Linked DNA regions of Homo sapiens: region 1 is linked to region 2. The links come from fine-mapping of genetic effects on gene expression. A gene starts in region 2. The other region holds a variant in brackets. All regions are shown on one strand. Distances are between the middles of the regions.

Region 1 (4,392 bases), 28 kb before region 2:
GCAAAGACTTGGAACCAACCTAAATGCCCATCAATAATAGACCGGATAAAGAAAATGTGGCATGTATACACCATGGAATAGTATGTAGCCATAAAAAAGAATGAGTTCATGTCCTTTGCAGGGACATGGATGAAGCTGCAAACCATCATTCTCATCAAACTAACACAGAAACTGAAAACCAAACACCGCATGCTGTCACTCATAAGTGGAAGTTAAACAATGAGAACACATGGACACAGGGAGGGGAACATCACACACCAGGGCCTGTCAGGAGGTTGGGGGCTAGGGGAGGGATAGCATTAGGAGAAATACCTATTGTAGATGACAGATTGATGGGTGCAGCAAACCACCATGGTACATGTATACCTATGTAACAAACCTGAACATTCTGCACATGTATCCCAGAACTTAAAGTATAATAATAATAATAAAAAGTGCTGTAGTTGATATGCAGACATTAATATCATCAAATTCAATACATAAAAAGTATCAAACAATAATACAGGATCTTGTAACCTCTCTGCAAGAAGATATTCTAATGTAACATAGCACTGCTTGAAAAGAAAAAAAAAGCTTCATGGGATAGATGAGTCTTTACATGTGTCAAGAAGAGAGTACAAGGAAACTAATTAATGTTGCTCCTGTCATATCAGCAGCATTGAGAGAAAGACATAATTCAAAAAAAATCATTGGCCAGGCTCAGTGGCTCATACCTGTAATCCCAGTGTTTTGGGAGGCTGAGGCAGAAAGATCACTTGAGAACAGGAGTTCAAGACCAGCCTGGGCAACACAGGGAGACCCTGTCTGTACAAAAATTTTTTTTAAGTTAGCTAGTCATGGTGGTGTGTGCCTGTAGTCCCAGCTACTCGGGAGGCTGAGGCAAGAGGATCACTTGAACCCAGGAGTAGAGGCTGCAGTGAGTTATGATCGTGCCACTGTACTCCAGCCTGGGTGACCAAGAGAGACTCTGTCGATATCTAATAAATACAAGTCATTTACCATATATATGATTTATAAATATCAATTCTGTGGATGTCAAATTAGAAATATTTTATCCAATCTAATGATGTCCATTGAAGCCCAAAATTTTAATATTGATGAAGTCCAATTTATCATTTACTTTGTCACTTGTACTTCTGGCATCAATCTAAGAGGGCTTAGCATAATGCAAGGTCACAAAGATTTACTCCTATATTTTCTCCTAAGAATTTTATAGTTTTATCTTTCACATTTAGCTCCATGATTCATACTGAGTCCATTTCTGTGTATGAAGTAAGAAAGGATCCAACTTCATTGTATTGCATGAGGCTTTACAGTTGTACTAGCACGATTTGTTGAAAAGACTGCCTTTCCCCCAACTGAATTGTCTTGGCACCCTTGCTAGAAATCAATTGACTATAAATATGAAAGTTTATTTCTGGACTCTCATTTAAATTCTATTGATCTGTATGTCTATCCATATGCCAGTATCACACAGTCTTGATTACTATAGCTTTGTATTAAGTTTTGAAATAGGGATGTGAGTCCTCCAAATGTGTTATTCTCTCACCAGGTTGTTTTTCAAGATTAATGTTTTACATCAAATTTGGGAACTTTTAAGCCACAAGTTTTTTAAATGTGTTTTTTCTGTTACTTTTTCTCTCTCTCCTCTTATTCTGGTACTCCAGTCATGCATATTTTGGTGCATTTAATGATGTCCAACATTTCTCTAATAATCTGTTCATATTCATTATTTTCTTTTTTTTTCCTTCTCCACTCTTCAGGCTGCCTTATCTCTATTGATCTATCTTCAAGTTTGCTGATTCTTTGTTCTGCCAAATCTACTCTTGAGGCCCTCTAGTAAATTTTTCACCTTGGTGTTTTACATTTCAACTCTAGAATTTTGATTTGGTTCATTATTTACATATAAACATACATACATATATGTATATGTACATATATACACATTTATGTAAATACATAAACTGATATTACATATATACATCTTTGCATATGCTGCACTATGTGTAATATAAATTTATGTATTTAAATAAATATATATGTGTATGTGTGTGTATGTATGTATATGTATATATATATATATACACATATGCATGTAAAGAACCAAATGAAAATTCTTGAGTTAAAATGTGTAACAACCAAATTATTGGTTGACATATATATCTTTATTGCTAGTCTCTATTTGATGAGATTGTCATCATATTATTCTTTACTTCTTTAAGCATAGTTTCCTTTAGTTCTTTGAACATATTTATTATAACTAGTTTGAAGTCTTTGTCAAGTCTGACATATGGGCCTTCTGACAGGCAGTTTTGGTTGTCTGCTTTTTTTCCCCTCTGTGTGTGAGTCACAGTTTCCTGATTCTTTGCATATCTTGCCTTTTTTTGTTGAAAACTAGACAATTGAATAATATATTTTAAGAATGCTATATACTGATTCTTCCCTACAAACCTATAGAGCTACTTTTTGTTGTTTTCTTATTTTTTAGTGACATG[T/G]CAGGGCTATTTCAGGAAAGTCTATTTTCTCCACAGTGAAGCCTCTGAAGTTGATCTTCAGAGGACATGATCTTGGACATTTGCACAGTCACCCAGAAGTGACAGTGATTTTAGCAGGGCTTTCTTTGCGTCTTTCCCTGATCTCTCTGTTAAGCTGTCTGCCTCTGTTGGTATCACATCCAGCTGTTAGGCTCCACTAATTGCATGTTGATTGCTCTATTGTTTTTGATAATGTCCTGGATGTCCTGCAGCATAAATTACCGTTGGATCCAATTAAATCTGGGCCTATTTGCAGGAGTGGTTTTTGAGGCTAGTCTTTGAGGTTTGTTCCAACCCCAGGAAGGATCTTCTTAGCTTTCTCCCCTACCCCTCCCCTTGTCTCTTTGGTAAATCAGCTGACCTGTGTTAGCTCATAGCTCCCCTGGGGCTACCAGCCTCCTCTTAATTGCTTATCACCTTAACTTCCATTGTTTTCCAGAGAGCCCTCAGGCATCAACTTCCTCACATTTTGCTTAAGATAAAGTCAATTTATTTAAAGATAGCTCAGAGCTCATGCTCTCTCTCTCTCTTATTTATTTATTTAGAGTCAAGGTCTCACTTTGTCACCTAGGATGGGGTGCAGTGGTGTGATTGCAGCTCACTTCAGCCTTGACCTCCTGGGCTCAAGCAATCCTCCCACCTCAGCTCCTCAAGTAGCTGAGACTACAGGCATGCACCACACACCCAGCTATTTTTTTTGTATTTTTTGTAGAGGCAGGGTTTTGCCATGTTGCCCAGGCTGGGCTTGAACTCCTAAGGTCAAGCAATCTGCCTGCTTCAGCCTCCCAAAGTGCTAGGAGTGCTGGCATAAGCCATCGTGCCCAGCCAGAGCTCTCTCTTCTTATGGCCTGCTCTCCCTGGGCAAAACCTCTGTACCATTGCTCCGGAGCTGGGGGTGGGGACAGTGGCACACTTCTTTCAAAATGACACCCTTGTTTTATGAGCAGCATGCTGGACAGGAGCAGTAGCATCTAGTTTTCTTGGCTTGGTTCTTCCAGTGAGCAACATCTGCCCTAAAAGCAAGCCGGGGCAAAAGCAACTGGGGCCTAGTGTTTTCAACCTGTCATGTCTAGGGTAGCAGTAGAGAGCTGAGTGAAGGACAGGAGTCCCCACCTCTTTGGCTGTACTCACTGAGAATTTAGCCTCTGCCACATGGAGAAGGGGATGAGAGAAATGCTGGCAGCCTGAACTCTGGGAGAGACTGGGAGCTGGGTCTCCATATTCTTGGCCACCCAACCTGCAGTGGATCTTCCATCACATGGAGTTTGAGGGTAGCGGGAGGCAGGGAGCAGATCAAGTGTCGCAGACTCTCACTGTCCAAAATTTAGTAGATTTACTTGAATAAATATTTATTCATTTGCTGTATGTTCTCTGGACAATCTCCAGTGACTCTAAGTGTTGGGGTTTTTCTCCTAATAATTTTCACCAATTACTGATGTTTCACTGGGAAGCAGGTCCGAGAAACTTCTCACACTGCCATTCTGGAATTGGATCTCCAGTACTTGTGTTTGGTATTTTGCACAGAGGCACGGAGGGAAAACACAGTTAAAGTCAGGTTGGGAGCCAGAGAAGAAAAGTGAGGGGATGTGCTTTGGCTCTCCAGGTAAAGATGGCAGAGCACAGGTACAGCTTCTTGCTGACTACACTCAGCCCATCTGGTACACTTGTCCACACTGAATATGCTTTAGCTGCTGTAGTGGGAGGAGCCCCTTCAGTGGGAATTACAGCTGCAAATGGTGTGGTATTAGCACTGAGAAGACACAGAAATCCATTCTGTATGATGAGCAAAGTGCACACAAAGTAGAACCCATTACCAAGCGTAGCGGTTTGGTGCACGGTGGTGCGGATCCAGATCAGA
Region 2 (4,392 bases):
ATTCCATGATCTAGACTCAGCCACGTTGTATGTAGCATCTTCATCCCAGGCAGATTGGGCTGATTTTGCCAATGACTAATAAAGAAAGATGCACTGCAACCAGAAACAGGAAAGAGAGCCGTCCATTCTTACTGATGTGCTTAGCAGAGCCTGTGCCAAGACATTTTTTCCACTCCATCAATAGACCCACGGACCAAATTAATTAGCAAATGCTATTAAGGCACCGACTCCAGAGCCCTTTAGCTTTGCAAAGCTTCTGATGTAAATGAAAAAGAAAAGCTATGCTAATCATTTAATGTGTCGGAACCCCAGTTTATGTAATCCGATTGCATTAAACACTCTACATAAAGACCATCCGCGATTTTTCAACATTTTTCTGGAAATGCCTAGCCATTTCACAGCTCCTGCTATCTTTTTACATAAATGAAGAAAGATACGAAGCACCACACGCCAGTATTTTTTTGATTAGTTTCCTTTGTCGCTACCTGAAAAACTGCACTCACAAAGACATCAAAGCTATCTCAATCCAAGACGCGTTTGTCCCTTTTTCCAATCTATCTCATCCCTTAATACCACGCTGATTCATCTAAAACCATCCATACACAAAAATCTGTCACCATCCTTCCTGGGTACCCAACGCAGGTAGTTAAGTGAATACCTACCAATTCGTCTGGGCCCGGGACACACACACATTCTCCTGTCATCACAACACGGAGCCGACAACATCCACAACCCGCGCGGGCAGCAGCAGCGACAGCAGCACCGGCCCATTGAAAGCAAGGCAGAGATGCTCATTAGAGGAGGCGGCGGCGGGGAGGCGGGAGCGGAGGAGGGGCGAGGTCTCGCTCCAGCCCGGTGAATGGGCTGGGAGGTGGGGGGGAAGAGGATGGAGGAGGGATAAAGGGGTGGAGAGAACAAGGAAGCCAACCAAACCAACCCACCCCGCCGGGGAGGCAAAGCCACAGCCCAAGGCAGCGGGGCCCAGGCGCGAGCAGGGGTGCGCCCCGAGGGCCAGCCCCTCCATCCAGCCGGGGCGCGAAGCCCATGGACTGCAGCCCCGCCCGCTGCCCGCCCCGCCCTGCCCGGCCCGGCCCCGCCCCAGGGGTGCCCGTTTCAGTCCAGACGAACAGGGGCCGGCCGGTGTCAGGCTGCCAGCGGGGCCAGCCCTGACCCGGGGTGCGTCAGGGAGACCCTCAGGCAGTGCCGCAGCCCTACAGCCTCCCTGGAGCTCACTCTGCCGCCGGCCCCGCGGCGCCCTTCGTGCTGACAGCTGGAGCGCAGGGGCCGGAAGACGCTAGGGCTGCACGGCGCCCCCGCCCCCGCCCCCAGCCCCCCGACGGCCCCCAGCGCCGCCACGCCCGCCCCACAGCCCGGACGCCCGGCGCGCACCTGGCGCTCCAGGGCTCGTCCAGCCCTCCGCACGCCCGCGGCCGCCGATCCGCGAGCACGCCCGGCGCCCCCTCACAACTTTGGACGGGTGGAGGATCCCGGACGGGGCGGCTCGTGGCAGGGAGTAGGGAATACGAACCGGGCACGGCAGGAGACCAAACGATTCTTCCCGACGAGGAGGGGGCGACAACGACGCCACCGCTCGGCGCTCTTTCCACGCAGCCCCGTGCAGCTCCCGGAGCGCGAGCCCTCACCCCCGGCCTGCCCACTCTGCTCCCCTACCGTGCGGGGCCGCCACCCTGCCCCGCCCGCACGTTCGGGCCGGAGTGCTTCCCGCCTGCCGATTGGCTGCGCAGTGACGAGTGGGAGGGGAGGCGGAGAGGGCTGCGGCCGGGGGTGGGGCGGGGGCGGAAGAGGAGCGCGCTCCCCGCCAGCTTTGTGACGTCACGGGGGTCAGACAATCCCTTCCATTCGGCGCGAGCCGCCCATTGGTTCCCCGGGCCCGCCTCACGTGACCCCCCCCCCCCCGCCCCCAGCGAGTGGAAGGTGTGGCTGCGCGGCGCTAGGGAGCGGTGGTCTGTGGAGCTCGGCGGTGTTGGCTGAGCAGGCTGCGGGGTCGGGAGAGGGGAGGCGCCTGGGCCGGCTCCAATGTCTTCGCGTGCATGGGGCCCGAGGAACGGGCTGCTCCCCTGTCGTGCAGGCTTCCTAGAATCTCTGGCACCTCTGCGGGGATGCGGTGGTGTGGGTGGCCGGCCCAGCGGCCAAGCCTCCCCTGCGCCTCGCGGTTGGGTGCGGGCTTCCCAGGGTAGGCTGCGGGAGCGGCTCCCAGCCTCACGGGAACCTCAACTCCCTGCGGCTCACCCCAGCCTGCGGTACAAGGCGTAGCAAAGAACCTCGAGAGTAGCTGTTGCTTCGTTCGTTTGATACGTTGCAGATTTTAGGAGCATTAACGCCCATCATGTTTTCTATCGCCCCAGGGAGAGGAAGCAGGTGTAGACAGCAGCAAGAGGGAGTTGTGATGAGGGAATTATCTCTGTAGCGTAGATGTGTGCTCACGTTCTCTGAGGAGTTTTGAAATCAGTATTGTTTCCGTTGCCCTGAATGGTTACAAGGAGAGAACACTGGACTTGGAGTCAGAAAACTTTCATCCAAGTCATTCCCTGCTCTAAGTCCCATTTCTGTTCCATGAGATTGTTTCCACCTCAGATGAGATTAGACTTAAGGTGGCATTGGTATTGTCTGTGGTAAAACAAGATATCTTCGAGGGCTCTTCAGTGACTTACATCCATACATCCCTTTTATGGGATAGTGGCTTCTGAAAGCTTCCTTGGCAGTGGCAGATAGAGCATTGCACTTATCTTCCCTAGTGTTCACCAATAAGTTGACTTTGATTTATTACACATAACTTCTTACTAGCCAGTCAGGTTCACAAAATGATGTGGAGTGAATTTCTTTTTATGTAATAAAAAACGTTATATACCCAAACTGGTCCTTTATAACTCCTGGATCTTTCAAGTTGCTGTATTCTCTGTTCTCTAAATAAACTAGAGGAGACTGTTTTTGCCCATCCCCAGGTTACCCATGGAACTTTTGTGGCTAGTCTGTCTGGCCTTCATCCCAGTTTTTACAGGTCCATCTGCCTCCCTTCATCCTCTCCTTTTTGCTTCTCAAATGGGCTTCCCATAAATTGCAAATATTCTCCACTACTCTTCCTGTCATTTAATTTAAGTATCTGGTTTCTTCTTCATAGATGCATAGGATGGTGTAGCCTAGTGATTAAGAGTGCAGCTGGAGCCAAGCTGGCTGGGTTCCATTCCCAGCTCTGCAGCTTTCTGTGTGGTCATGGGCAACTCTGCATGCCTCATTCTCTCACATATAAGATAAAAATGTAAAAAGTAATAGCAGGGCTGTATTAAGAGAGTTGACATATATAGCTTGCTAAGAAAGTACATAGCATGTAGTGTTATATAAGTGTTAGCTATTCTTGATATTATCGACATGTCCAGGTCAGTGTTTTAGATTAAGAACTCCTAGCAAGTAGGAGACCCAGGCCCCCAAGTGCATTATATTCTATTGTTAGGTACTAATAAGTTATTAATAGAATGGAGAATCTTTGAACCTTAGAATATCAGTTTAAATTCATTTATATAGAGGATCTCTGCCTCTTAACCCTTACTTTGTGGACATAGAGACCCACTTAACTGAAGCTGTGAGTGGAATTTTAAGAGTTTCTGCTTTATGACCCAGAAATGAAGTACATACTAGACTTCTCTGTTGTCTTATCAACTTTTTCCTGGCCAGGCTTGGTGGGCTCCTGCCTGTAATCCCAGCACTTTGGGAGGCCGGGGCGGAAGAATTGCTTGAGCCCAGAGACCAGCCTGAGCAACATAGACCTCATCTCTACAAAGAATCTAAAAAGCAATTAGCTGGGTGTGGTGGCGCCTGCCTATAGTCTCTGCTACTCAGGAGGCTTGCCTGATCCCAGGAAGCTGAGGCTGCTGTAAGCAGTGATGCATCACTGCACTCCAGCCTAGGCGAGTAAGCAAGTTCCCGTCTCAAAAAAAACAAAAAGCTTTTTTTTTTAATGGTTGTGAAATAGAGTAGTAAGAATCCAACATCCAGGCCAGGTGCGGTGGCTCACACCTGTAATCCCAGCACTTTGGGAGGCCAAGACAGGTGGATTGCTTGAGGACAGGAGTTTGAGACCAGCCTGGCCAACATGGTGAAACCCTATCTCTACTAAAAATACAAAAAATTAGCCGGGTGTGGTGGTAGGCATCTGTAATCCCAGCTACTTGGGAGGCTGAGGCAGGAGAATTGCTTGAATCTGGGAGGTGGAGGTTGCAGTGAGCTGAGATTGCAGCACTGCACTCCAGCCTGGGCAACAGAGTGAGACTCCATCTCCAAAAAAAAAACAGAGTCCAACATCCATATCAAATGACCTCTTCAAAGCTGTTACCTTAGTAGCAACCCTTATTCCACACTGACATTGCCATTATTCAG

Evidence for each region. PIP is the estimated chance that this variant, and not a neighbour inherited with it, causes the effect.
Region 1: its variant is the best candidate, but not a certain one, in a credible set for the expression of PDP1 in lung (TOPMed, PIP 0.79).

What each region holds. Positions count from the first base shown.
Region 1 is chr8:93,942,629-93,947,020 of GRCh38, reverse strand. It overlaps the pseudogene PSMA2P2. Among named protein-coding and RNA genes, the nearest start is that of PDP1, 28 kb to the right of the region's middle. The variant T/G (reference allele first, on the strand shown) is at 2,496.
Region 2 is chr8:93,914,216-93,918,607 of GRCh38, reverse strand. PDP1 (pyruvate dehydrogenase phosphatase catalytic subunit 1) reads right to left here and starts at 1,685. Exons shown (of 2, transcript NM_018444.4): 1 at 1,529-1,685. It overlaps MIR378D2HG (MIR378D2 host gene), which reads left to right and starts at 1,964. Exons shown (of 1, transcript NR_170280.1): 1 at 1,964-2,874. MIR378D2 (microRNA 378d-2) reads left to right here and starts at 2,489; the gene lies at 2,489-2,586. RefSeq lists silencers at 745-1,474, 1,605-1,944.